Linked DNA regions of Homo sapiens: regions 2 and 3 are each linked to region 1. Evidence: fine-mapped expression QTL. A gene starts in region 1. Each other region holds a variant in brackets. All regions are shown on one strand. Distances are between the middles of the regions.

Region 1 (7,740 bases):
AGTTATTATGAAGGCCTGAAACATTTTGAAATGAAGAAGACCTAAATGAGTGGAAATGCTCTGTTAAAGCATTTGAAGATTACTTTTTTAAAAAAAATTAATCTTCTGGTTCAACCAAATACCATGGGAATCCCCAGAGGTTCTAATTTGACAAAGTGATTCTAAATTTTATTTGGAAATTCAAAGGGCCGAGAATAGCCAAGACACATTTGGAAAAAAGGTGAGAGGTCTTGCTTTACTGTATTTCAAGACTAAGTGTAGAGCGTCTGTAATTAAGGCAATGTGCTTATGGCACAAGGACAGAAAAATGTCCAAATGGAATAAGATAGAGTGTAGAAAGAGGCTCATGCATACATGGAGAATTGATGTAGAATAGTAGTGGCTCAGCAGAACAGTGGGGAAAAATAGTCTTATCAACAGTTGGTTCTGGGCTGGGCATGGTGGCTCATGGCTGTAATCCCAGCACTTTGTGAGGCAGAGGCAGGCAGATAACTTGAGGTCAGGTATTTGAGACCAGCCTGGCCAACATGGTGAAACCTGCTCTCTACTAAAAATACAAAAATTAGCCAGGTGTGGTGACAGGCGCCTGTAATCCCAGCCACTCGGGAGGCTGAGGCAGGAGAATCCCTTGAACCTGGGAGGGAGGGGTTGCGGTTAGCCAAGATTGTGCCACTGCACTACAGCCTGGGTGACAGAGCGAGACTCAGTCTCAAAAAAAAAAAAAGTTGGTTCTGGACAATCAGATATTCATATTGGGGAAAAAAAGTAACTTGACCGTTACTTCATACCGAAGCCACACACACACACACACACACACACACACACACACACACACACACCCCATTGCCAGATGGATTGTAAGTCTAAATGTAAAAAGAAAAAGGATAAGCTTTTAGAAGACAATATTGGGGACTATCTTCATGTCTTTGATGTAAAGAAAGTCTTCTTAAACAAGATAGAAAGTGCAGTAACCTTACGGAAAAAGACATGACACATTCGACTACATTGAAATCATGATAAAAGCCTCTTTTCTAGGAAAGTTTCCATTAAGAGAGTGAAAAATCAAAACACAAAGCAAGAGAAGATATTTGTGATGTATATAATTGACAAAAGGCTTGCATAGAAAATACATAAAGAACTACAAACCAATAAGAAAAGACAGATAATCCAAAAGAAAACATGGACAAAAGACAAACAGGTATTTTACAAAAAATAACCCAGTTGCCTGTAACTATGTATAAAAGGGCCCAACTTATTATTTATCAGGGAAATGCAGATTAAAACTCCAGTGAGCTATTGCTACACTCACCAGGTGGTTAAAATTTAAAAATAATTGATGTTATCAAATGTTGGCAAGGATACAGAGCAAGAGGAACTCTTATTCACTGCTTGTGGGAGTGCAAGTTGGTGTAAATAATCTTGGAAAACAGTTTGGCATTGTCCAATACAATTGAATATATGCATAGCCTATGATCCGGTGATGCAACTTTTCAGCATGTAGAAATAGAGGCATAAGGGCACCTACTGGCCAATAGAAATGTGTGCACAAACCAAGCTGTACTATTCAACCTGAATATTAATTAGTGTGGCAAAAGTGTAAAGAATATGAAAAGTTACCACCATAAAAGTCAAGTGAGTGATTATTCTTGGGGGTAGGAGGGAGTTGTGACTGGGAAGGCTCGAGAATAGCTTCTCATAATTCAATTTAGATATAATAGACTGAAAACAAAAATTCTTTATGTTAACAAAGTGCCTTTCAAACCCTTTTGAGTTTGGACTGAACCACCATCAGAAAGAAATTTCTCACTGCTACTCAGTAAAAACATATGCACACACCCCAAACTGAAATATGGGTGTAATTAAATAGCATCTACTTTTACTACATGGCATGAAGTAATATTTTCTATTCCTTTAAAAAAACATGGGCTGGGCGTGGTGGCTCATGGCTGTAATCCCAGCACTTTGGGAGGCGGAGGCAGGCGGACCATGAGGTCAGGAGTTAAAGACCAGCATGACCAGCATGGTGAAACCCCGTCTGTACTAAAAAATACAAAAATTAGCCAGGCTTGGTGGCATGCACCTGTAATCCCAGCTAACTCAGGAGGCTGAGGCAGGAGAATTGCTTGAACCCAGGAGGTGGAGGTTGCAGTGAGCTGAGATTGTGCCATTGCACTCCAGCCTGGGTGACAGAGCAAGACTCCATCTCAAAAAAACAAAACAAAACAAAACAAAAAAACACGGTAGGCTGAGTGGAGTGGCTCATGCCTATAATCCCAGAACTTTGGGAGTCTGAACTAGGAGGGTTGCTTGTGCCCAGGAGTTTGAGACCAGCCTGGTCAACACAGTAAGACCTTATCTCTACGAAAAAATAAAAATAAAAAAATTAGCCAGGTGTGGTGGTGCATGCCTGTAGTCACAGTTTCTTGGGAGGCTGAGGTGGGAGGATGGCCTGAGCTCAGGAGGCAGAGGCTGCAGTGAGGCGAGATCACACCACTGCACTTTAGCCTGGGTGACAGAGTGAGACCCTGTCTCAAAAAAAAAGCAAAGCAAAAACAAAAACCAAAAACCAAAAACCAAAAAAAAAAACAAAAAAACAAAATCCATTGTAGCAACTGGCAGCATGAAAAGTTCTGCATTTAGAATGCTTTTGTACTCAGCTTTCAGATGGAAAAACTGAGGCATAATTGGAATAAATTAAGCCTATCTGCTGGATACAGTGATGGCCTAGAGAAACTTACAATAGGATCTTACAGAGACTTTCTGAACTGGAGTGCTTGCTTTCAGGATCATCCTTCCCAGCCCCTCATTCTGCAGATGAATAAACCAAGGCTTAGCACCATGTGACTCGTGTGAACAAGGATAGGGCTGGGATAAAACATGTTCCCGATTCCTCCTGCACGTCCCACCATCATGTCAGGGTCATGGCTGCTTTGGCCCAGAGAAGCTGACATACACCTGGCTCACAGGAAGCCCCCTCCTATTGACTGGGGAGACTGCTAACCTGGAGAATGTGGATGCATTTCTCAGGAGAGGGAGAGGACCGCCTGCCTGCACAGGAGGTGAGTCCAAGGCACCGGCTGAGCTGGCCTGATGGGTGGGGCGGCAGCACCTCACCTGTACCAGGGCACCCCAGGAGGCTGCACCCAGTGACGTGGGCTGAGGATGGGGCCGGCCCCTCTCTCTGCATAGGAAGCTGGCCTCTCAGTGTGAGGAGTCGTCTTGCAGGGGAAGCAGCAATCTCATCCACATAGGATACTGTCTACATGTCCAGGACAAGGATGCAGGCAGCTGCCTGTGACAAGCGCCATGACCCTGCCAGGCTCACTCCTTGGCGGCTCACAGACCCTGAAGGCTTGGCAGGGCTTGCCTGCTGCCTTCTGCCAACTGCAGGCCACTCAACCACGGGATGCTTTCCTGCTGCTTGTTCCTCGTCCCTTGGGACACGGAGGCAGCCATCCGAGACTCACATCAGCCCCATTGTCCCCAGCCCTGGGGATGGGAAACTCTTGCAGGTACCAGAGCTTACCTGAGGCCATCTCAGACAAAAGTAAGCAGAGAGTAAACAGCAGAAGGTAGGAAGTTCTCATGGCGACTGGCAGGCAACACCCAGGATTTCAGGAACTGGGGAGACGCTGGCTCCTTTGGAGGCTGAGCTGACAGAGGCTTCCAGAGGCTGGAGCGTCACTGTATTTATAAGACTGGTGGATTGCACAACCTCGTCGACGGAACTGAAGGGAGGTGCCACAGTCAAGGGTGAACTTCTAATCGCTAACCCCTGGTGTCATTTGCCCTGAGCAGTCAGCAGTCACATGGCACATTGTCTCCATCTGGCTGCCGCTGGATTTAGCTTTCAGCCTGGAGCCCTGGTGCCAGCTCCTCCTGTTTGGTTTTCTAGGTTAGGCAGTTCTGATGGGGTTTCTGGAACAGGCAGTTCACACTGGAGTCCCTCCTTCTGGATCACATGGAGGAGAGCCACAGGGAAGCTCTGAGCAGGGGGCCGCTCGGCTCTAAGCTGGTGTTGGCCTCTTTAGTTTGATTGTCTTCCTGCAAGACAAACTCAAACTTCACCCTCTTCCCTTGCAGAAGGAGAGCTGGTTGTAATGAAGTTTCTTCCTCTGGCCAAGGCTACCTTCTCATCTCTCCCCTTATGCAGAACACTCTCCTCGATGGACCAACTTTTCTCTTTTCCCACTAGACGTGTTCCTGGGACGTTTCCAAAGGGCACTCCTCAGAAAGTGAGCCCCCAGTGTGGCCCTTGGAGGGTGAGGGTCTGGGCCAGCCTGGGCCCACCCTGCAGAGCTACAACTGCCAGATTGGGGTGCTGTTAGCGACTCTCCAAGTATCCCTCAGGTTTTCCTTGATTCTAAAGATTTAAGAAACATTTTATTTATTACTGATTTTCATTGTAATTCTGTGAGCAGCTTTCCTGATGTCTCAGTGGCTTATTTGCAAGCAGCAGACGCTGGCTCTCGCTGACCAAGGAAGGGAAGAGTTTATTCGGAGGATATCAGGGTTGGTGGGGGGTGGTGGCATTGCTGGAGAACCCAGCTTGAGGCTCAGTTTCCAGGAATGACATCCACCCTACACTGTCACGGTGGTCCAATGAGAACCCCATACTGCAGCCACATGGCATGAGACACCCAGAGTGGAGTGACCCTCAGCCACTCTACCGCTGGCAGAATGCCATTCTGCACCCAAACATGAACCTGCCGTATACTCCCACTTCAACCCTGCCAGAGAAAGACAGAGAGAGATCCAGAAAGATGGACAAACAAAAACAGAGACAGAGGAAGAGACAGAGACATGCAGAGAGACAGTAGAGAGACACAGAGAAACAGAGAGATAGAAACAGACAGAGAGAGATGGAAATAGAGAGAGAGAGAGAGATAGAGAGAAATAGATTCAGAGAGACAGAAAGAAGGAGACAGAAAGATGCAGTGGGATCCTGTAGCTAGCTCATTGAGGCAGTTCACAAAGGGTGTTTGGGAGAAAACTTGGAAGAGGCTGAGCCATGCCTGACCTAGGAGCAGTGAGATTGTGGAAAGAGAAAAGAAAGAACCGAAACACAGCTTTCCTTGCTGGTGCTGGGTAAGACATGGCTCAGCCTCTTCCAAGTTCCTCCCAAACACCGTCTGTGAACTGCCTCAATGAGCTAGCTACAGTATTCTATCGGATCTGTTTCTGTCCCTTTCCTTCTGTCTTATTGAAGCCACACTATGATTCTTTGACCAGGCAATATAATCCTCATGTTAGAGAAGAAAAACACTGGGGTTCAGAGAATTGAAACAAATTGCCCAAGGTCACCCTGCTGGTAAATGGAAAACTGGTGTAATGGCCTGGAAAGCCTCATTCCCTAGCCTCTGTGCTGACCGCCTCCTGGGGAGGCTTCCAGGTTATTACACCAGGTGTGGGTTCAATAAGATTGTGAAAGAAAAATATCTCAGGCACCTTCAAGCTGGGAACTGCTTATTGCGAATCTGCCTCTTTTTCTATTCAAGTCATCTTTTTGCTCCCAGAGATACATGCGTATTTCGATTAACTTTTTTGGAAAGACTTATAATAAATTCAAAAGAATGCAACCGGTCAGGGCGCAGTGGCTCACGTCTGTAATCCTAACACTCTGGGAGGCCGAGGCGGGCAGATCGCCTGAGGTTAGGAGTTCGAGACCAGCCTGGCCAACATGGTGAAGCCCCGTCCTTACTAAAAATACAAAAATTAGCTGGGTGTGGTGGCACACACCTGTAATCCCACCTACTCAAAAGGCGGAGGCCGGAGAATTGCTTGAAACCAGGACACATTGGTTGTAGTGAGCCGAGATCGCACCACTGCACTTCAACCTGGGTGACAAAACCGCACTCCGTCTCAAAAATACAATAAAAAGAATGCAACTGTCTGTCTCTCACATACCTGTGACCTGGAAGCCCCCAGTGGTGGGGGCCTTGCTTTGAGCTGTCTCTGCCTTTCTGGACAGAACTATTGTACTTCTTATACATTGATTGATGTCTCATGTCTCCCTAAAATGTATAAAAGCAAGCTGTGCCTTGACCACCTGGAGCACATGTTGTTAGGATTTCCTGAGGCTATGTCAGAGGTACATCCTCAACCTTGGCAAAATAAACTTTTTAAATTAAATGAGACCTGTCTCAAATTTTGGGGGTTTACAAGATAATAAAGTAAAAAATCTCAGAATGCTGCCGGGCACCATGTGAGGTCCGATGGTGTCTGTAGATCCTGGGAGTGAAAGGAATCTAAACCCTGGAATCCTGATTTTCAGGACTGATGTTTTCTGCTCTGAACCTGGAAAACTTTTTTTCTAAATTTTATTTTTATTTTTTATTTATTTTATTTATTTTTTTATTATACTTGAAGTTCTAGGGTACATGTGCACAACGTACAGGTTTGTTACATATTTATACATGTGCTGTGTTGGTTTGCTGCACCCATTAGCTCATCATTTACATTAGGTATTTCTCCTAATGCTATCTGTCTCCCCTCCCCCTACCCCACAACAGGCCCCGGTGTGTGATGTTACCCACCCTATGTCCATGTGTTCTCATTGTTCAATTCACACCTATGAGTGAGAACATGCGGTGTTTGGTTTTTTGTCCTTGTGATAGTTTGCTCAGAATGGTGGTTTCCAGCTTCATCCATGTTGCTGCAAAGGACATGAGCTCATCCTTTTTCATGGCTGCATAGTAGTCCATGGTGTATATGTGTCACATTTTTCTTAATCCAGTCTATCATTGATGGACATTTGGGTTGGTTCCAAGTCTTTGCAATTGTGAAAGTGCTGCAGTAACATACGTGTGCATGTGTCTTTATAGCAGCATGATTTATAGTCCTTTGGGTATATACCCAGTAATGGGATGGCTGGGTCAAATGGCATTTCTAGTTCTAGATCCCTGAGGAATCGCCACACCGACTTCCACAATGGTTGAACTAGTTTACAGTCCCACCAACAGTGTAAAAGTGTTCCTATTTCCTCACATCCTCTCCAGCACCTGCTGTTTCCTGACTTTTTAATGATCGCCATTCTAACTGGTGGGAGATGGTATCTCATTGTGGTTTTGATTTGCATTCCTCTGATGGCCAGGGATGATGAGCATTTTTTCATGTGTCTCTTGGCTGCATACATGTCTTCTTTTGAGAAGAAACACTTTGCTTTTTAAGGTTACATTTTCAGGATTTCAAGCATCCTGTGAGGGTGCTAGAAGAAGGTCATTTTAGTCCCAGTGTCCAGGGCATCACCCTGTTCCGCTCACGTCCATCAACAGGGTGATGCTGGAGAGCAGAGCTCACTCCTGGGCGCTCTTGAGGAGTGAGGCGTGGTAGCCAGCTCGGAAGGCATGGGAGCCCGGGCGAGATGATAAGGAGGCCAGGTCCTGTGCCATGTGCCCAGGAGAAACCACATACAAGCAGAATGCAGCATCTACTTTCACATAAATATTGCAGTGAGACTGGCCAGAGTCCTGGCTTCATCACTCACAATTGACCAAAGTGTGGCCTTTGTGGGTGGGCGCTGACTAAGGAGACTGATGGGGGCTGTGGTGGCAGAAAGTGCACAAGCCTTTGACAGCCCAGGGATGAGGCTACTGACCCACCTGTGATGAATGACAGTCTAATGGAGGAAATGACACCCGGGATGAGGTTGTAGAGCAGATGGGGGCCAAGTAGATGAAAGTGTGGTGGGAGGACCACGGACATCTCAGGAGAGCAGGGACCAAGGCCTATATAGGAGAT
Region 2 (7,740 bases), 21 kb before region 1:
GCCTCAAATGTCTTCCTTGCACTCCTTGGTCTAGAAACAGCAGTGAGTTTGGAATGCTCCATCTGGCCTGTGAACCCCCAAAATCTGAGACAGGTCTCAGTTAATTTAGAAAGTTTATTTTGTCAAAGTTGGGGTTGTGTGCCTGTGAAACCGCCTCAGGAGATCCTGAGGACATGTGCCCAAGGTCTTCAGAACACAGTTTGGTTTTACACAATCTAGGGAGACAGGAGACATCAATCAACATGTGCAAGATGAACATCGGTCCGGTCTGGAAAGGCAGAACAACTTGAAGCAAAGGCGAGAAGACAAAGCAGGGAGGGGCTTCCAAATGATAGGAAGGGCTTCCAAGAATGCAAATGGTTGCATTCTTTTGAATTTCTGATGAGCCTCTCCAAAGGAGGCAATCAGATATGTATTCATCTCAGTGAGCAGAGGGGTGACTGAATAGAATGGGAGGCAGGTTGTCCCTAAGCAGTTCCCAGCCGGACCTTTCCCTTTAGCTTAGTGATTTGTTGGGGGACCCCAAGATATATTTTCCTTTTGTAGGCCCTAGATACTTCTGCTGAATTTTCCATTCTGCAGATACGGCACCTGGGTTCAATGAGGCTTCTGTCATCTCCTAGATTTGAGTTTTTGGTGTGTCAAGAGGATATGAAATTTTAGGATGCTGTGATAGAATCAGAGTTTTGCTGGCTTTAAAATATAGCACCAGAAATACAGTGAGGCCAACGGATCAGGACACGGTGCCATTGAAAAGGGAGTTTGTTAGACCCACAGATCGCAGGAGGGGCACACAGAGCAGGGGGGCCACATGGGGAAGCCTGGGGTTAGGAAGTAGATGGAGACAAAAGGAACTGTGGGCGAGAGCCTTTCTTGTGATTTCCATGGGAAGAAATGAGAAGACAGGGCAAGCAGGTTTGGGATTTGCTAGTATGAATAATTTCAGCAGTTCTGGGGCACAGAGGGTGTCCCTAGTCGTCTGGTACCTGGCCCAGGGTAGATAAGGGCTGGTGGATAGAGACCAGAGCATGAGAGCCTCCCGAAGAGGGCAACTGGGGGTGTGGACTTTTGATTGGTTGGTTTGCATTTGAAAGGGGTGCTCCTGGGAGAGTTGCCTACTATCTCTAAGAATTGGCTGACTCTGAGGGGGCAAGTCCCCAGATATCAAGGCATGAGAATTCAGACAACAAGAGATACGGCGAATCCACTGCTCCAACATGCCTTCCCTCAGCCGTGGCTTGGCAGTGGCTCTCAGCAGGTAAACTGTACTCCCTGACCCGCCGACACAGGGCCTGACAGTGTGCCTTGTGTCCACCAGCAGGAAGCAGTGGCTGCGTGCCTGTTCCAGAAAGGGCAGCATGTGTCTCAGCCCACAGCCTTCAGCCCTCAGCTCCCATGGGGAGAGCGTGTCATAGGCAGCCCCTGTTCACTGAGCATTTGTCCCCGACAGGGCCACACACAGAGCAGCCCTGAGCCCAGTCCAGAGCCGGCTGCAGAGGCCACAGAGCCAACTGTGAATGGCGACATGAATGTTTGTGACTTCCAGAATCTGAGATTTGGGGACGTTTGTTCTTGCAGCAAAAGGCGATCAGTACAGACACCTGGGATTTTGGATGTGCGGGAATCTCTAAGAGCTGCAGGGGCTTCATATCTATACTGCAGGCTTCACCTTTTCCCGCCACCTTGAAAACTGCTCTTGGTCCTATGGGACTTCCAGACTGCAGGAGGAGATCTTCGAGGCCGTCTTTGTCTTTGACCTCACACAACTCACCGAAGCAAGTTTACCTTGCCTGTTTTTACCTCCTAAATGTTTCTCGAATCTTTGTCCTCCTCTCTGTTCTTAGTATCTTAGGTCTGGCTTCCATTGTTTCTCCCAGGATCAATACAAGAGGCTCCCACATGGGCTCCCCACCTCCAGAATTGCCTTTGGACCTCACATCTGTACTCCACCCAGCTATTAAAGGGATCCCTCTAGGATTAGTGTCCTCGGGCTGCTGTAACAAAGTATGAGAAACTGGGTGGCTCAAAACCACAAAATTGTACTGCCTCACATTGTTCTGGAGGTCACAAGTCTGAAATCTGGTGTTGGCCGGGCCATGCTCCATCTCACAATGCTGAGAGAGGATCCCATCTTGCCTCTTCCAGCTTCTGTTAATGGCTGGCAATCCCTGCCTTCCCTGGCTTGTAGAGGCATCATGTCCAGTCACACGGCCCTGTATGTCTTCACGTCGTCCTCTCTCTGTATGCCCCTCTCTCTGGGTCCAATTTCTCCTTTATATAAGGACACCGGTCCTATTGGATTAGGGCCTCCCAAATGACTCCATTACAGGTTGATTATCTATGCAAAGACCCTATTGCCAAATAAAGTCACACTCTGAGTGGCTGGAGTTAGGACTTGAATGTCTCTTTTCCTGGGGACACAATTCATGCCATAGCATAATGTATCTGAATTTCATGTCTGACTGTGTCACCTCTTCAAGGACCCAAAGTTTTCTGAGGCTCCTCATCTCCCAGGCTGTGCCCCCACCAAAGGTCAGGAGCTGTCTGCTGGAGCTTTGACAGCAACAGGCAAACATGGTCTACCTTCCTGGAGCATTGTTTTTCCTCTCAGGATTCAAAAATGATTACCTTGCAATGCAATGGAATGGAATAGAATGGAAGGGACACATGCCTTTGCCTGATAAGATGCGGCTTTGAAGGTATTTTGAACATCCAGCAGGTAGCCCCTTTGGCACCAGTGGGGCTTTTGTTCTCATTTGCCCACGCAGGTGAAGCATGTTGCAGAGCATTTGAACAGCTCTCACCTACAGGAAAAGGCCCAACATTGTTAAATTGTGCAAGGTCATGCTGCACAGATTATTTAATCTTAGCTCAACTCAGCCATCAGCTCTCTTGCTAACACTTTCCAATGAGGCACCATCAAACTGTTCTTGCTCATGCCTCAGCTCCTGGACTGTTTGCTGATCCCTACTTTTCCCTTGTCCAACAGGCCTGACTCCCAGTCAGTTAAAGAACGCCTTCTCTGATCCTCTAGGTCTTTCCCACTTTGTGACAGTTACATTCCCCGTGCTTGCGAAAGACATTGATAACGTCTTTATCTTTGTATGTTCTGTATCATATTACAATTTGTAATTACCTTTGGAATGTGACAGCTCACATTAGCAGGTGAATTCTTTAAGGAAAGCAATTTTTAAAAATATTTTAAATCCTTCACGTCCTTGACATTCGGTGGAGTTCACTTCCTGGGATATACTAGACACTTAACACATGTTTGTGGAAAGCTGGTGATGTTTTACTTCCTGACACTACAATTTAAAAAATCTCTATCTCACTTTTCAAAACCTTGAAAATAATGCAAAAAACTTTGAGGCAAAAATACATTGTTTTGTACTAATATTCAGAAGACTTATGCAACTATTACGACATAATTGATTTGTTGGAATTTTTTCATTTTCAATTACAATAGCATCCATTTTTTATAATAGAAAAATTATGAATACATATACAAGGAAAATAAAAATCACAGAGAAAAATAAGCCCAGATGGATTTAGGATTTGTTTGTGAAGGCAGAAATTTAAGTTAATTTGAGTAAAGTAGTGTGCGATCATGATTACCTCAAGTAGGAAAGAATTTATTTATTTATTTATTTTTTTGGTGAGATGGAATTTCTCTCTTGTTGCCCAGGCTGGAGTGCAATGGTGCAATCTTGGGTCACCGCAACCTCTGCCTCCCAGAATCAAGCGATTCTCCTGCCTCAGCCTCCCAAGTAGCTGGGATTACAGGCATGAGCCACCACGCCCGGCTAATTTTATATTTTTAGTGGAGATGGGGTTTTACTGTATTGGTCAGACGGGCCTTGAATTCCTGACCTCAGGTGATCCACCTGCCTCGGCCTCCCAGAGTGTTGGGATTACAGAAGTGAGCCACTGCGCCTGTCTGAGGAAAGAATTTTTCTGAAGTCATGAAAACTACGAACTGATGGGAAAAAGTCTGATATGTTCTACTCCGTTAAAATCAAGAACTTCCTTTTTATGCTAAAGACACTATAATGGAAGTGAAAGCCAGTTCAAAACTGGAGGAAGATATTCTTACAAATATATTTTACAAAATGTAAGTACGTCTGAATGCAGAAATGACAGAAAGCCAGTTCACTGCAACCCTCCCCACTGGAAGCATATCTTCTGCCCAATGGTGAATTTGCTAAAAGTGGACTAATCAAATGACCGGTGTGCTGGACGTAAGAATTTTCAAAGTCCTCAGCTTCTCTGTGTCTTCACCATATCAGTTTTGTTTCTGTGATTTGTCACAAATATCTGTTTCATATTTCA[C/A]ATCCAGGTGCATCAAAAATGCTCAGTGTTGGCCAGGCGCAGTGGCTCACGCCTATAATCCCAGCACTTTGGGAGGCCGAGGTGGGCAGATCACTTGAGTTGAGGGGTTCGAGACCAGCCTGGCCAACATAGTGAAATCCCATCTCTACTAAAAACACAAAAATTAGCTGAGTGCAGTGGTGCACACCTGTAATCCCAGCTCCTTGGGAGGCTGAAACAGGAGAATTGCTTGAACCTGGAAGGCGGAGGTTGCAGTGAGCTGAGATCATGCCACTGCACTCCAGCCTGGGTGACAGAGTGAGTCTCCATTTCCAAAATATAAATAAATATAAATGCCCAGTTTTATAGATAGAGGTGTGTGAGGTTGTCCTGAGATGAAGTTTGCGATCTGCATTTTGGCAGGTTCATGCCTGCCTGGGTCCCGTGCTATTCCCACCTCTGATCTTGCTGTGGTGCCTGCCTCTACCCCTCCCATTCCACCTTCATCCCAGGGACTGCCCTACTCCCCTCCTTCCCCATCTCCAGCACCCCTTCCCCCTCCCTCATTCAGCCCTGTTTCACCCTGGTCCTTCTTTGCTCTGGAGGTTAAAAGAATCTGGTGACTTGTCTTAGGCACAATTTAAAGTTGCGGGACAATAGGTCATTGGGAAAAATGTATTCAGAGAGTTGTTTTTTTGGAAAATTAAATAATGGAAAATCAGTCATTCAGGGATTTGACTTGGAGCCCCAGGGAAGAGACCTGGAGCCCAGATTACCCAGGCTACCCTTACTGGCCACTAGAAGGCGGCCTTGAGAAAGCGAAGATTTGGACCCTGCAGAAACCAGCTCTTCTTCCACCAAACTTTCTGTAAAGAGCGGGTGCCTGAAGCCCGTGGGTTTTGCATTAAAAAATGAAATGCAAGGCCAGACGCGGTGGCTCATGCCTGTAATCCCAGCATTTTGGGAGGCTGAGGTGGGCGGATCACAGGGTCAGGAGATGAAGACCATCCTGGCCAATATGGTGAAACCCGGTCTGTACTAAAAATACAAAAGTTAGCTGGGTGTGGTGGTGCGCACCTGTAGTCCCAGCTACTTGGGAGGCTGAGGCAGAAGAATCGCTTGAACCTAGGAGGCAGAGATTACAGTGAGCCGAGATCATGCCACTGCACCCTAGCCTGGTGATAGAGCAAGACTCTGTCTCAAAAAAAAAAAAAATTGCAGATGCTCACCCAAAATTGTAGGGTGAAGTAATGTGGAATCTGAGACGTAGGACTACTTCATTTAAAAATGTCGTGTAAAAAAGAGTGGCGAAGGAGGTGGTTTTCTCTTAACAGTGCCCTGTGAAGGTTCCCTGGTGGGGGCGGTGGGTGGATGAGGGGCCCCTATAGCTACAGATGGACAGATGGACAGCACGGCAATCTCCTGCGTCATGTCCATCTTCAGAGTCTTTTCTCATTTAGTTGGTAACAGGGCTGTTCACTGGCAAGAAGGAAAAGGAAAGGGTTTTAAGAGATTCACAGAAAAACACAGGAATGATTTAATTTTGTTGAACAGATTTAGAATTCAAATTTGTTAAGAGCTTAACTTTAAAAGTTGCCGTTCAAGAGGACAGCAGGAAAAGTTAAGGATGCTCCATGCAGAGGTATAGTTTTAGTAATCTGAGAGGTCAGCCCTCAGGACCTGGGATGTCAGTGGTTCTGTTGCTTGGTTGCCCAGGGGGAATTCGTAATTCAGGATTTATGACTCTGTAGCTTAAAGGACTTTTATGGTCCTCTGTGATTGTTTTCTTTGTTCTGGCAAATACCCAATCATGATGATGCCTATAGAAAAAGAAAAGAATAATCAGTGTCAAAAAGATCAGACTAAAATTCAAGCTTTTCTTTTTTCCTTCATACTTTTTTCTTTCTTTTCCTGGCTCCCTTCTTTCTTCCCTCTTTCTTTCTCCTTCCTTCTTTTTCTTTCTGTTTTTCCTTCCATCTCTTTCTTTGCTTTCTTTTCTCTTTTCTTCTCTTTCCTTTTATTTTCTCTCCTCTTTTTTCCTTGTCAAATGACTTGATTACTTTTTCCTTACATGCTGGAACATTTTAACTAATTGCATCTAGTTTTCAATATTATATTTCTCCAAATTTCTTCATTCAAATTAAGACTTTTCAGGTTCTGTTTTTTCGTTTGTTTGTTTGGTTGGTTGGTTTTTTTTTTTTTTTAGACGGAATCTCACTCTGTTACCCAGGCTGGAGTACAATGACGGGATCCCGACTCACCACAACCTCTTTCTCCTGGGTTGAAGCAATTATCCTACCTCAGCTTCCTGAGTAGCTGGCATACAGGTGCCCACCACCATGCCCAGCTAATTTTTGTATTTGTAGTAGAGTCAAGGTTTCACTATGTTGGCCAGGCTGGTCTCAAACTCCGGACCTCAAGTGATTCTCCCTCCTCGGTCTCCCAAAGTGCTGGGGTCACAGGCGTGAGCCACCGCGCCCGGCCCAGGTTCTCTTTTGAATTCGTTCCCACTGGCCTTTGTGTTTTTAGTAAATTTGGCCCTCTCTGTCTTTGTGATGTCATCAGCCTTTGCGGACCTGCAATGTCCCACTCCTCTGCCAGTGTGGAGCCCAAATACACATCATGTCCTCTTTCTCTTTGCAAGCCTGGAGGGCATCCTTAGACTAGGCTAACTTGAGCTCAGCTCTTGTCTGGACATTGCTGACTGTGTGGAGTCTATTATTCTGAGGTGGACAGGGAGGAGCAGGGAGGGAGGGGCTGAGAGCTGAGGTTTCTGTCGGGGTGGGTGGTCTAAACACCTGCTGCTTGCATTCAAGGATCTGTTAGTTTCTGCTAGGGTCACTGTGAAAGCGGCTGGACTTAGATCATTTAGTTGACATGTTGTCCTGTAACTACCCAATGGGTTCACCCTGCCTGCTGCCTAGACAGAGCCAACTTATCAAGACAGGGGAATTGCAATGGAGAAGAAGTAATTCATGCAAAGACTGGAGTTTTGTTGTTACTGAAATCAGTCTCCCTGGCGTTTGGGATCAGAGATTTTAAGGATAATTTAGCAGGTATGGACTCAGAAAGTGGGGAGTGCTGACTGGTCAGGTTGAAGATGAAATGACAGGGGGTCAAAGTGAGTTTTTGCTGACTTCTGTTCCTGGGTGGGATCACAGAACTGGTTGAGCCAGATTTTCAGTCTGGGTGGTGTCATCTGCTGCACCGGAATATAGGATCTGCAAAATACTTCAAGCACTGATCTTAGGTTTTACTATAGTGACGTTATTCCCAGGAGCAATTGGGAGAGGTCCAGACTCTTGTAGCCAGAGGCTGCATGGTCCCTAAATCATGATATCTAACTGTGTAGCTAATTTGTTCCTACAAAGGCAGACTGGTCGCCAGGCAAGAAGGAGTTTTTCTGATATCTAATTTTGTAGCTAATTTGTT
Region 3 (7,740 bases), 55 kb after region 1:
ATTACAACATTAGTTCAGGGGGCACAGAATACACTGCTGCTGGTTCCGTGTCAGCGGTAGCTGCTGGCCCTGGAAGGCTGGCCTGCCCCGTCTCTAACCTAGTGTCATGATGTCGTTCCCCCTTGTGCTGGCTGCGGGGCTGAGGACCTGAGTCTGGGGGCCTCTGCTCTTTCTCCTGGGTGGCAATGCTCCTGTCCCTGCCTCCTTCCCAGTCTGTGGTGGGGACTCGACAGCCAGGGCAGGTCAGGTTCTCAGTCTGTGCTGAGGTCTCACCTGGGCCTTGCCTCTGTCTCCCCCAGGTGGCTCCCAAACCCCAATTAGAACAGAGTGAGTCTGTATCTCGTGGTCCCTTTCACCTTTCTTTCTGGGCTGCACCAGAACCTTGGCAGAAATCAGTGGTTTAAGCAAAAAATGGTGCTACATGTAAAAGTCTTTGCAACACTTTCACTTCCACCCCCACCCACCCTGCCCCCAGCACAGTGTCCTGGACTTGCCACCAGTGTCAACTCTGAGTGTAGACACAACTGAAACTGTTCCTTCATACACATGCAGTTCAGCTTTCAGACACTCAACAAGAGCCTTGACACCCTCAAGCTGGGGTAAATATCCTGGGGAAGCTACAGGTGGGGGTGCAGGTGTGGGTGTGAGAGGAGAAAGGCCTTCAGCAGCAGCAAGGATATTCCCACACTCTCTGAGGCTGTCTGGTGACCCCAGCAGACACAGTGAGTGTGGACCTTGGGCAGGGCCCTGGGACATGGTTTTGACCCAGTGTGGAAGGGCAGTTTTGGAACAGAGTGTGTGTGTTAGCGTGGGGTAGAGCGGGGGCTGCGTGGGGGTGAGCTCTGAGAACTGTCCATCTCCCAGCCCCTGAGAGTGCACCGCCCTGTCCCTCCCCTCAGCCTTTTGTCCACCTCCCTGCAGGGAGGGTCCTGGTGCTGCCTGTGCCACACAGCAACTCCCGGGCCTGCAGATCCAGCTGGGACAGGCAGGAGCTCCAAGTCCCCTGCCCTTTGTCTGCCTTTCCCAGCCGCCTCTCACATGCTGTCTATGTGTCTGGTGTTGTTGCCTGCAGCAATTTTTACAAATGACTATGAAAGAATAACTCTCTTGGGCTGTTTTAAAATGTGGTCCCAATTCTTGGACTCTTCTCCCACAGAAAGGGAGGTTTACTTCTTTCCTGTTGGATCTAGGTCGGGTGACATCTTCACCAATAGAATGCACCTGACTTAGTACCATGCCGTTTGCTGGGCCCAGGTGCTAAGACACTGGTATTTTTCACTTTCACCGTCTTGGATGGCGCTGCAGTTGGAATATTTTTGTCCCTCTGAAATTCATATATTGAAATATTAAACCACCAGGTGATAGCATTAACAGGTGGTGCCTCTGGGGAGGTGAGTAGGTCCGGAGGGCACCTCATGAATAGGATTAGTGTCCTTATAGAAGAGATCCCAAGGAGCTCCTTCATTCCTTCCATCAGGTGAGGACACAGTGAGGAGGTGCCATCTATGAACGAAAAAGCTGGTTCTCAGCAGACACCAAATCTGCTGCCACCTTGATTTGGACTTCTCAACCTCTAGAACACTGAAAAATATATCTGTTGTTCATAAGCAACTCAGTTTATGGTATTTTTTTTTAAATAGTGGCTCAAACGGACTAAGAGGGCTGGTCACTTGGGGGCCCAGACACCGTGTTTTGAGGAAGCCTCAGCCTCGCACAGGAAGATGAACTGAGGGCACCTGCGAGGGTGAGCTAGAGAACACAGAACAGCCAGCTTTCTGGGAAAAACCAAAACTCTGATTTACAGTGTTTGTAAATTTCTGTGGTTAGAATCCTCCCAGCTCTGGACCGTTTAAAAAATGTCACACAAACCACCTTTCTCATGAGCCGGCATGATCTGGCCCCAGCGCATCACAAGGTCCCATCCCTCAGCCCTGTGAGAGCTCCCAGCTGAGCCAGCACTGCCTGCCACCTGTGCGCGAGTGTCTCAGCCCTGAGCTCCTCAGATCCCAGCAGAACCTCTCCTCTGAGCCAGGCCCAAATTGCCAAGGTATGAGTGAAGACCTGATGGTGCTGTTTCAGTCCACTATGTTTGGGATATCTTTCCACACAGCAGTAGATGAACAGAGGGCATTGTCACAGTCTTGGCGAGAAGTTGGACTTGTGCATTTCTGCGTGTGTAAACTTCTGCTTCTCCAAAATATTGGCGAAGTAGGACTGAATCCTCTTACCTTATTCCCAAAGTGTCACAAAGAGCCCATGATGGTGGGAGCATGAGATTGTGGACTGTTTGGAGTGACCGAAGAACCCTCTCACCCATTCCTAGTTTAAATTCTTCCCGCTGGGAGCAGGGGTGGTGTGGGAGCCAGGTGGGGTCTCAACCTCTGCCCTCAGTAACAGACTCAGAAGAGGCCATAGGACTCAGGAGTTGGCTGAAACAACAGGGAAAGAAGTAGGGATTTTCTCTAGGAGATTAGCTGCGAAGGGCACAGAGAGATGACCATGAATGACATGGCTGTCACCTGGGGAGAGATCCCAAAGTAAGATCAAGAGAAACAAAGGGGAAAAAAGGTAAAGACGACAAAGTAACTCATGCTTTGAGTCCTTGGACCAAGCATTTCCTAAAGCCAGAATTCCTTGGTATGGGAGTGAAAATGTTGACTCAGGGCTGGACAAGGTAGCTCAGCTTGTAATCCTAGCACTTTGGGAGGCTGAGGAGGAAGAATTGCTTAAGGCCAGGAGTTTGAGACCAGCTTGAGCAACATAGCAAGCCCCCTGCCTCTTAAAAAAAAATGGTGACTCAGCTTGACCTGATTTCTAATGTTTTACTCCAAGACTCCACTAAGATGCCTGAAAAAGATCAAAAATACCAAACTCGGAGAGCCTGAGGCAAAGACAGTGCCGTGCACAAGGACAGGAGATGAGAGCAGATGACAAGTGTCCCAATGCAGCTTGAGGGCAGATGACAGGTGTCCCAAGAGCAGCTTGGGTATCAGGCTCCCTGGTGATTCCCATGCACAGCCCCCGGGAGAACAGCCTTATTGATGCTGATCAGCAGGGAAGGAGGGACGGCTACATTAGAGGCTGGAAGGACAGCGGGTGAGTCAGGGATGGGGAGCTTCATAGTTGATGTTCAGAAATGGAGGAATTCCAGGTGGTGGCAGGAGCTAGTGGGTGGCCATGGGTTGGAGGGCTGGGACAAAGAGGGAGTGGGGTCACTGTCATCCAGGCGGACAAAGCACTGAGAGGCTGGGAGGGTGACCGGCCAGGTAACATTACAGTGAAAGACCGTTTCCCGTAATCTTAAGTTTCTGAGTGAGTTGAGTGGCTTTGAGCAGCAAAAGGGAAAAATACATAGGTTTAGAAAAGAGAATAGGTAGTTGTCTGATGTCTTCCATTCTGGTTCTGCTTGTAAGAAGAGTTCAAGTTCTCAAACAGAGAAACAGAAGAGAAAAAAATGGCTGTCTTTTATTAAAAAAAAATCAGAAGGCTTTTAAGAAATGTCAAGGAAGTATTTATTGAACACTGTTGAAATAAGAGTCAAAACGCTGCAATAGGGTGAGCCGTTGAACTCAACTGTCC[T/G]GAAGCCCAAGGCAGGAATATGTAGGCCCTGGGTTAAGCTAGTGGAAAAGTTCTGGTGGTTGTTGGTGGGGAAGTTGAGCAGTGTGATTGGGCAATCTTTGTTTGCTAATTTATTAGGAGATAGGCTCCTGTCTTCCCACAGAGACAAGGCTGCTATCCCCTTGAGTAATTACATTTATAGGGATGAGGCATCTGACTTACTCTTTATTGTTCTACCACTCAAGTGATTCAAGGTAGAAAATGTCTTGTATGTCATCAGTAAACATAGAGTGCATCCACATGAACGTTTCTGGGTCTCACTTGAGGCTGAGCAACTTGCCCTGGTTGTTTGGAGACCCTCACACCTCTCCCTGCATTCTCTGTCCCCAGAGTTTGCAGCTGTCATAGCCCACCCTAGACTGCAGTAGCAGAAGCCACATGTGGTGCTCCCAGTGTGTCTATCCACACAGAGGAGCAGGGAGGCTCCTTCCTCGTCTGGCCCTTTCCTTTGGATTGATGGATGCTTCTCAGCACATCAACCTGAATTCTACTCCATCCTTCTGTGTTGCAACAGCAATTCCTCTTAATTCAATGGAGGTTGACCTCCTCCTGCATAGCTCTTGCCCTGATTCTACATTCTCTACCTAATTTTCTGCTTTAATCATTCTTTTATTCTATTGAAAGTTTAAACATCTTTATGTTTCAGTTTAAGATTCACCATGAAATCTATCCTTGGCATTCCATGACAGAATGGTCTTTTCCTACTTCCAAAAGTCCTAATGCTTCATTAAACCACATTTTACCCATCATAGTCTCCTATATTTTAGTCTTTTTAATTAGTTTTAATTAGTCTTTTTTAAGGAATGTTGTCACATGGACTAGACACACGGGCTGCTTTACCTCTGTAGGCTTCAGTATTTTTTTCGTAAACTCACATACTTTGGAGCACAGAAGTATCCCTAAGCCCATGAACGTGTTTGAATGCTTTCTCTGCATGTGAGGCTCCAACCTTTCCGGCCACAGACTGAGTTTGTGCTGAGGCATCATTAGCTGGTTTGTATTCATGCCTGGTCATGGGGAAGGCCACCTGCCTCTGATTGTGGGGGTTGCTGGTGTTTAAGCTTTAGTGCCATGGGTCCCATTCAATATCTAAGGATCGGGTTTCCTGGCTTGGATCCAGTCAGGTGGCATTTGGGGTTTTGCCCCTCTAGCACATTGCCTCAACATGCCACAGTTTTCCAGCCTGGGGTTCAATTTTGTGTCAATATAAATTTTGAGTACAATTAATTAATTTAGTTGAAATTAATTTATTGATCATGTGCAACGTATTAGGTGGTCATCTATGCACTGTGGTAAGATGATGAGGAAAACATGCAGCTTCCCTCCCAGTGTTGGGAGACAAATGTTCCAGAGAGTAAATGAAATGCACAGATGTGAGATAGCTTACAATTCTACAGTTAAAAATAAAGAGAAGAGGGGGATAGAGGTCACCAGGGGGAACTAGTTGCAATTTGAAATTAAGAAATCAGCAAAGTCCTCAGTGACAAAGGGAAGTTCTAGCAGAGACCCCAGGATCTAGGGCGCAAGCCAGGTGGACTTCTGGGAAGTGCAGAAACCGCGTGATGGAGTCAGCCGGACTCAGTGGACGGTTAGGAGCAATATGCAGAGTTACAGCAAGAACCGCGTGACTTCAAGTCAGTGGCGGTTACAGGAACCCAAGGAAGACTGTCCCCCTTTCACATCCTGAAACCCAAAATGTCACCTTCACCTTCAATACAAGGGGAAGACCTTGGACCATTTCTTTGTCAATCACAGACCCACTGTGTCTTCCCTGGGACCTGTATTGGGTTCCCCAGCTGTGAAGTGTCTCAGTGGGGTGCCTGGACCCCTGAGCTGCCTCTTCAGACAGGCAGAGCCTCAGTCTGGGGCTGAGACCTGCTCAGAATCTGCATGGGTAGATGTGGAGAACACCTGCTTCCTTCTCCTGGGCTCTGGGCATTGTGGGTGGTTGGTGTTGGTGGTCACAGCTGTGTCTTGGCCCATCAGATTGTTTTGGTCAAGAATGGGGAATAATCCTACTAGAATCACTGTCCCTTTATTTGCAAACTGTAGTTTCTCTGTCACTCTTGGAAGTTGTGGGGGCATTCTATGAATGACCCTCCAGATAAGAGGAGCCATGGCTTGAACAGAGAAGGTATTTTTCCAAGCATGTGTAGTGGATTCATAAACTGGAACTGCTAGATCCAAAATATAAGAAATCTGTGGGCCAAGCTGGACTTGTCCCTGGAGCTTTGTGATCATGTCCTCATAGGCCGTTGACAAGACATCCTCAACTATTGTTAAAGGTACAGTGGGTTTCTAGGGTAGGGACAGAGAGGAGAGACAGGAAGAGAGGTCACATCACACCCCAGCAAGATGTCAGCCTGGCCCTCAGGGACACCCGGGTTAGGCAGTGACCCTGTTCTCTTGGAGGGGAGGAGGAAGACAAGCTCAGGAAGGTACAGACCCCACGTGTGCTGTGCCTGATGGGGAGGCTGCAGTTGAAGGTAGGACAGCAGGGGACGCTGTGGCCTTTCCGGGAAATGCTCTGAGCATCTCAGAGAGCGCTCCTGGTTCATTCCCTTTCCCTAGACCTGGTTTCTTGCTCACTCACTGATGTGCAGGATGTTGTGGTTATCAGAGCCGCAGCCTGCAGCAACAACAGGAATGTAAGGTTTCTGGTGAAGCTGTATTTTCCCAGCAGAATCAGGTTCTCAGCAGCTTTAAGGCAACCCAAGAGAGTGCGCGTTGCAAAGTGTAGTGGAGCATTTGTGTGTGTGCGTTTTCTGGGTGTGAAGACGACTTTATGGGTGTGAAATCCAGGTCTTCATAGACGTGGCTGAAGGGTGCTCTTAATGAGGACATCCCATTGTGGGCTGCTGTGTTTTGTGTTCCATGCACCCCGCCTTTGCTAACAACCCATTTCCCTCTTAATTAAAGTTGTTTCAGTGGATCTCCTATAACCCTATGTCTTAAAAGGCAAATGTGTGACCTGGACATGTTCAATAAAACTCCAATATTTTGACGCAGAGGATGGTGGTTTTTCCCGAGAAGTAGTGAGGTTGTGAGTAGCTAAACTGGAAGCTGACGTTGATTCTTTTGCCTAGTATATGAGAGTTGTCTTTGAGAGTGAATCCATTCAAAATGAGGCAGAATGAAAAGACAGAGCAGTGGATGGTGAGATCAGTGGCATCATTTGTGCCTTCGTTTCAGTTTGTGTCTGAAGCCATGGCTCCTCCTTAAAAATTCTAGATTTTGAAACTTTAATTTGTTCCAAAATATTCATGTAGGATTCTGGCAGTTGCTTTCTAGTGTCTTGACACAGACACATATCAAATTTTAAAGAGGTGTAAACAAAGACATCTTGTTACGAGATATATATTTAGGATCAAGAAAGATGTTAAGGACAAAGTATAGGAGAAACAACCATTTCCTGTAGCTCTCAAAGCAAATTATGAGCTCATTTTTCTCTATTCTGCAAGCTCAGCTGCAGAAGCATGTGAAGCTAACACCACCGATGATGGCGTTCCCAGCATGACATTCTCTTGGACAGCAGAACGTTAATCGACACGCGTGCAGCAGTATGTGAAACTCACACCACCAATGAGGCAGTTCCCAACACGAAGTTCTGTTCGCCGGCAGAATACTAATCTGCAAGAGCAGACCATGCCCCTTGTTGAGCCTGGGAACACAGAGGAAGCATGAGAAATTAAGCACCAAGGTCAGCGGTGGGTGGTAAAGGGAATCTTGGAGAAGTCACATGCTGGCTGACCGGTGATGCTGGCTGCATTAGTGCCGGTAGCACAAACAACCTTAGTCAATAGGAATAAATACACAGAGCAATGCTGCTCATACAGGATTTGAGACTCATTCTCTTTTGCTCTGATTTGTGTGCTTTTGCCCCATCAGACACACACCTGAACATACTCTTAAGCCCATCTCCAGTTTTTAAAATTTCCTTTGTTGGCAGAATGAAATATTTTCCCTATAATATCTACTTGTTTAGATCCAGAAAGAACTGGTCAATCTGTCTCTCCGTATCTTAACCCTAGCGAATTTTATAGACATACCTTGGAATCAAGTCTTTGGAGAAAGAAGACTACTTACATTTGTTTGTCTCTCTATTCAGTTTGGAGATAAGAA

What was found. PIP is the estimated chance that this variant, and not a neighbour inherited with it, causes the effect.
Region 2: its variant is fine-mapped to the expression of DEFB1 in lung (TOPMed, PIP 0.96).
Region 3: its variant is fine-mapped to the expression of DEFB1 in lung (TOPMed, PIP above 0.99).

What each region holds. Positions count from the first base shown.
Region 1 is chr8:6,874,271-6,882,010 of GRCh38, forward strand. DEFB1 (defensin beta 1) reads right to left here and starts at 3,666. Exons shown (of 2, transcript NM_005218.4): 1 at 3,527-3,666. The coding sequence starts at 3,587.
Region 2 is chr8:6,853,206-6,860,945 of GRCh38, forward strand. No RefSeq gene overlaps it. Among named protein-coding and RNA genes, the nearest start is that of DEFB1, 21 kb to the right of the region's middle. The variant C/A (reference allele first, on the strand shown) is at 4,330.
Region 3 is chr8:6,928,863-6,936,602 of GRCh38, forward strand. It overlaps DEFA4 (defensin alpha 4), which reads right to left. Exons shown (of 3, transcript NM_001925.3): 3 at 6,958-7,279. The coding sequence ends at 7,158. Among named protein-coding and RNA genes, the nearest start is that of DEFA4, 5.6 kb to the right of the region's middle. The variant T/G (reference allele first, on the strand shown) is at 3,580.